Regions from separate parts of the Homo sapiens genome. Here region 2 is linked to region 1. The links come from fine-mapping of genetic effects on plasma protein levels. Region 1 holds a variant in brackets. A gene starts in the other region. All regions are shown on their forward strands.

Region 1 (2,906 bases):
CGCTTTCAGCTCCAACTTCAATTAGAAGGAGTTGATTTTGAGAGATCAACAAAAGAACCGACCAAAGCCTTATTAAAGGTCCTAAGAAGATCTCCCGGGTCCTTTGAGAAGCAGTTAAGGAAACAGTGTGCCCTCCATCATATTCTGTTACCGTATTTTATTCGGACTCCAAAGGAAAGTGTCGCTTGGGGGAGGGGGAAGCACTTTGATGAGCGGCGGCCGCGGCCCCTTTTCACTCAGCGGGCTCCCCCTTCGTTCTCCTCCTCCTCACCCAGCGCCCGGTCCGCTCTCGGCGCCCGACCCCGCAGCCCGGGCAGCGCGAGTGCTCCCCACTGCGATGCGCCTGGAGGCTCCTTGACTTGCCCTCACACTTAATCCTGTGCAAACTTTTTACCCCGCCTGTCGGGGTGGGGGAGTGGGGGAGATTAGAAACAAGGGGTAGAAATTCCTCGAAAGGGAATAAAGTGCCTAATTTTCAGGAGGAGGTGCCATTTAAAAGATTCGCCTAGCTTAGAGTTGGAACGAAAACTCTTTTTTGCACTTTTAAAAGTCCACCCAGGTAGACGTGTTTGGGAAGTTTTTTCGGGTGGGAAATGGGCTTCGCCCGTACGAACAATCCGGGGAAATCGCCTCAAGGAGGATCCTTACGCAGCATGTGGAAAAAAGTTGAGGGCAGGGGTCTGTGGCCACATTTTCCATCAAAAAGTCCCTGTTAGAGGCAGTCTAAGAAAGAGAGAGAAAGAGCGAAAAAGAAACTTTCCTATCAAAATGTTTCAATTAAGAAGTAGGGTGTACGTGTGAGGGGAAGAGGACGCTGGGCTCCAACGTTTCAGTAGAAGCGCTTAAGACTTGCAAACACCCTTGGTGGGGACCTGGAACCCCGGGAGATGCCGACGAGCAAGCAGGTAAGTGGCGGCGCCCTCCCAGTGGGTGCTCTTCCCAGGCGCGAGAGTCCGGAGGGGCCGAGGAGAGATCTGCACGCCCGGAGCTGCTCCCGCGCTCTGCAAAGTAGCCTGCGCCGGCACGAGCAGCCCGCGGCGTCGGTCTCAGGTGGCGGCGCCGGGGAAGAAAACGCTGGGGCCCGCGGCGCCGGGAGAGGGGCCGAGGCCCGGGCTCCTCCAGCCCGCCGCCCCCGGGTCCTGGCGCCCACACCCGAGCGGCTGAGCCCTGTAGCGCGCGGGAGAGCGAAGGAACCGGTTCTCCAGCACCTCGCCTCCTCCCTGCCACTCCCTCCGGAGCGCCGAGAGCGCGAGAAGGGCGGGGGCGCCCAGGGCAGGCCTGGAGACCCACGGCCCCCTCCGCGGCCAGGACTCGGGCTCTCCGCTCGCCTTCCTCGCCTAGCTCTGCGCCGCTTTTGCCAGCCGAGTCCCGGAGTTAGCGCGCGACCGGGGCGGGGCGGGAGGGCGGGGAGGGCGGGGTGTGGGGGGCGGGGGAGGGCGGGGGCGCGCGGAGGTAACCCC[C/G]GGCTCGCGCAGCCATTGCCCGGCTCCCTGTCACTCAGCCCGCGCGGGGCCCCCGATTGGCGGCCTAGCCCCGTTACGCACTCGCCTCGCGTTCACATACCCGGGGAGGGCAGTAGAAAGGTGATCAATCTTCATCAGGCTACATTTCCAATCACCTAAACAACCGAGCAAGACAAGCCACTCCGACAAGGTAAATCGCTTGATTTATTTAGTTTGCAAAGTGACTCTGCAGGACTTCCCAGTCCCCACTGCCTCCACGTTGCACCGGGAGTGCCGCGGCAACGCCGAGCCACCTCCCAACTCTGCCCCTCGAATTCCCCCCCTTGCGGCCCCTCGGCGCGATCCCAGGCGAGGCAATGTCCTGAGAACGTGTGGGGCTTAGCAAACAAAGTGTCTGTGCAATAAAGTGAAACCCAGAAGGACACGCACAAAGCCATTGAAAAAAAAGATAGAGGTGGGAAGAAGGAAGTTGGGAAAAGAAAGAAACCTGGGGGTCCTAGACCAGCCGCCAGGGTAATTCCAGTGCTGCTCTGTTTTGCAGGTTGGCTGCCCGGCGGGTCTCTGTGAGAGATCCAGGTAGATGGTGAACGGCCCCGGCAGCTGAGGGCAGGTAAGGAGAAAGCCGCGGGGCCACCCCGGACTCCGGGAGCGCGTTGGTTACCCTTATCTCCCCCTCCTCAAATGGATCCCGGCTTCCCCGGTCCCCAGCAGGTGGTCGGGGCTGTGGGAGCGGCCTGGCTCCCCTCTTGGTGAGCCGAGGACCCCGGGGCGCTGTCGCGGCCCGCAGCCCCCTCCCCCGCCTCCTCCGAAGTAACCAAGCTGAAGTGCTAAGTTTGGAGAAAGTCTTTGAAAACTCACGCTGCAGCTTCGCAAAGCCGTCGCAGCTTTGAGTCCCATTTTCCTTCGGCCCTAGAGCCCTGGCTGCTTCCCTTCCGGTCCCCTTCCTACAAGCTGGACTCCCTCAGCCCAGGTCTTGGGTCCCAGAAGACGGGGGCGGGAACGGGGCTGGGGGGAGCTTCTTTAGCTCTAACTTCTCTCCTTGAACGTCCTAGCCCGAGTCCCTGGCTTGCTTCACAGCGATCCCGCTAAGCGGGGTGTAGCGATGGCCCCCCAGGGCCCCAGGCCCAGTTTCCAGCGCCCCTCCCTGACCCCTGAGAGTGGCACCCCGGGTTCCCGGCAGCGGCGGGGGCGAGGCTTCGACCTCCCAGCTCGGGTCTGCGTGGGCTACGCCGCTGAGGCCTAGTTCTCTGTTCTCGACCGTGTCCTGGGGCCGCGGGTTCAGCTACAAGGATGGCAGCACGCGACTTGCTGCCCTCCGGCTTCACAAATCCCCGAGACCCTTTGAGGTGCTAGGCCAGTCACCCTTCACCCCCTGCTGGGACCCTGCGGTCCGCAGCCCAGACTGGGCAGAGAGAAGGCCGGGTGCGCGCTGGCAACGAAGGACGC
Region 2 (2,906 bases), not on the chromosome of region 1:
CCTGTGGCTGGTTACAAAAATAAACTCGCTTCTTTCCCAGTTCACCTGTATCTCATCATTGGACCACGAGAGCAAGCAGCTGGACCCTGTTCCTCCGGCAACGGCATCAATCTTACCACCAACCTTGGCTCTTTGAGGGGCTTGGTATATTAATATCACTGGCATCAGTGGGAATATGTGGGAGAAATGGAAGCAGTACTGGTAGAGAAAGAAGGAGAAGTGGCAGGATTGAGGTGCATGGCAGGCATTCATGGTGTCTTTCATGTAGTTTATAAAGTAGTTTATAAAGTAGCAGAAAGATAAAGAAATGACAGTTACAACATGGTAACATAAAAATTAGTAAAATGTGACATAAATTAGATATTAATTTTGGTTTGGCATAGCAGAATGCTCTGTCTGCATAATTTTATTAGATCTTCATTACAATACCACACCCTCAGATGAGGACAAATAAAGCCCCAACCTCTGGCCTTACATCTTAAGGTGTGTTTTCTCAAAATTTTCTGGGTTCCACTTTGGTGGTGGGAATGGCTGGAGCCAGCAGTACCACGTGGCCGGGGAGCCCTGAGCTGGTCCTGTGCCCATATGGACTCCGCTTTCTATTTCACCCCTTCATGGTTCTTTCTTACCCTCTTCCTTGCATGTCGGGCCCACTCGATGCCCCAAAGAACTCCAGGACTTCTGCTCACAAATGAAGTTGTCCTGAGGTCCTGTGGCTGAACCCTGGATCCAGAAAGACAGCCTTGGAAACAAATTACTACTCCTGTAGCCAGTACCTTACAATTACGTATTTTTGAATGATTTTATCGGATTTGATTGCCAAAGAATCTTGCAAAAACAATTTTTTCCCCAAGCTACACACCTTATGGTTGGTTGTGTTATTTATGTTCCCATTTTAGATGAGAGGACCAATATCCTAGATTAAAAATGTCAAATCCAAGATTACACAAACAGTGAAAATTGAATCCCAGGTTTTTCAAAAGACACTCTGATTTTAGATCTTAAGCCTATTATTCTATCCAAAGGCTCAGAGAAGACATGCTCTGAACATACTCAAAGTAACTGACACTGGAAAAGGTAACAGAGGTGTGAAAATCTTACCATAGTAGATGTGTGAGTGGGCTGGGGGCAGGTGAATTCCAGAGAAATGTGGCACTAAATGTCATGAAGCTGACTCTGTATTATACCAGAGTGGCCTCCAGATTGCTTTCACAACTGGGTAGTTCATCAGCTAATGTGATTCTCCAAACTTTAAATGATTAGAAAACTGGGGAAAAATGTAGAAAACCAGAGGAAAACACTCCTTCTAATCCAAATATAAATTCTTCACTTCTTTTCAATGTTCTTCCAGGAGAAGGATTCGTTGGGCTCTTTGCCTTCTGCTTTTATTTCTGTGCAAGGGTTTATGCAAGAGGTACTTGAGAATGCTGTACTGTAGAGCTTTGTTTCTCATGGGAACACACGGGGAAGTGGAAAACCCTCCAAATTGTTTGGTGAGAAAACATAACATTTATCCCTTTCTTTGGTGGGGTGAGTCAAGTGGTAGGGACTAGAATTCAGGTCCTCAATGGGCATATAAATATGTGTGTGCAAAAGCAGCCATCACACTTTGTATGGCAAGTGGAACCACTGGCTTGGTGGATTTTGCTAGATTTTTCTGATTTTTAAACTCCTGAAAAATATCCCAGATAACTGTCATGAAGCTGGTAACTATCTTCCTGCTGGTGACCATCAGCCTTTGTAGTTACTCTGGTAAGTAACTGGAATACATCTGGAATATGTGACATTTCTTTACTTTTCTGTTAATAAGAGCACAACTAGTAAGCCTTGCCTCACTGACAGTGGAATATGGTGGTAGGAATTGTATTTTTTTTTATTTTACTTTTAACTGACACATAATAATTGCACATATTTGCAGGGTTGGAAGAAGTTTTGGAATCACAGAAAATGGTGATGTTGGAAAGTATTTCAGATCCCCACCATCTAAGCTCTAGCCCAATATAAGTATTCTAATACATCCTACATAGGAAGTTAGCCAACTTCCACGGAGGGTCAACAAAGCACATTTCACTGCTGGATATTGGTCACCATTCGTTTTTCTTATTTTCCTCAATTTTGAGTTAAAATTTGACTTTATAATTTCTTTTGTGCTTTTGAACTATATGGAGTCATTCTTGCTATCATCTCCAGTTATCCAATTTGCTAGCTTGGTTCTCCTGAGATAGCTACATTCATCTGTTTATCCACTCAATGGATATTTATTGAATGGCTACAATTTGTTGGGCACTGGATAGGCATTGGAAGATTTAGACATGAAGCAGTCATAAATATTGTTCTTAAGGTGCTACTCTGGTAGGATAGATAGGGCTTCTGCCTAAGTTACTATAATTCTAGACTACTGTAAACGTACTGTGAGATATCCAGATAGAACTCTTTTAGTGTATTGGTGGGTGATTAGTTTAATTTTCAGGTAAGGGTATAGAAGCTGGCTTCTTGGAGGAGAATGGGAACTGATTTATTTTTTTGGAAGGAATCATTGTAACTATCAGGAAGACAGTGTGGGCACATGGGAAAAAGAGATTTCATGATAGCCACTGCTCATTGAGAGAACAGAAGGCTTTGAAGATCTTCTCCCAGGAAGCTGTAAACACATACAGAGAAGATATTTACCAAAATGTCTGAAATAAGAAGTATGGAGATTAATAATGAAAAATTGATTGCCGCCCACACCTACAATGGCAACTTTGGCTTTTGATGTTTATTGAATTTCTGAAGGAATTTGTAACTTCACCAGTTTTGGATATTTCACTGTTCTCTAATGTCCAGGGACAGGTATCTATGGGCAAAGTGGCAGCAGAAAGGAGGTGGGGAAAATAAATACCGCCCCCTCTGGGTGAGAATTTTGG

Which allele goes with the higher level. Alleles are on the strand shown, and positions count from the first base shown. The strength of an association depends on the size of the effect and on how common the allele is.
With allele G in place of C in region 1, the plasma level of the protein whose gene starts at base 1,605 in region 2 is lower (weak association).

What was found. PIP is the posterior inclusion probability: the model's chance that the variant is causal. The UK Biobank Pharma Proteomics Project read protein levels with antibody pairs (Olink). The fine-mapping took linkage between variants from a reference panel, not from the people measured, so its PIPs are less certain.
Region 2: it holds the start of SCGB3A2, and the variant in region 1 is fine-mapped to the plasma level of the SCGB3A2 protein (UK Biobank, PIP 0.93).

What each region holds. Positions count from the first base shown.
Region 1 is chr2:63,049,248-63,052,153 of GRCh38, forward strand. It overlaps OTX1 (orthodenticle homeobox 1), which reads left to right and starts at 1,583. Exons shown (of 5, transcript NM_014562.4): 1 at 1,583-1,650; 2 at 2,002-2,070. RefSeq lists enhancers at 1-721, 1-84, 85-832 and a silencer at 949-1,608. The variant C/G (reference allele first, on the strand shown) is at 1,461.
Region 2 is chr5:147,877,107-147,880,012 of GRCh38, forward strand. It overlaps SCGB3A2 (secretoglobin family 3A member 2), which reads left to right and starts at 1,605. Exons shown (of 3, transcript NM_054023.5): 1 at 1,605-1,752. The coding sequence starts at 1,698.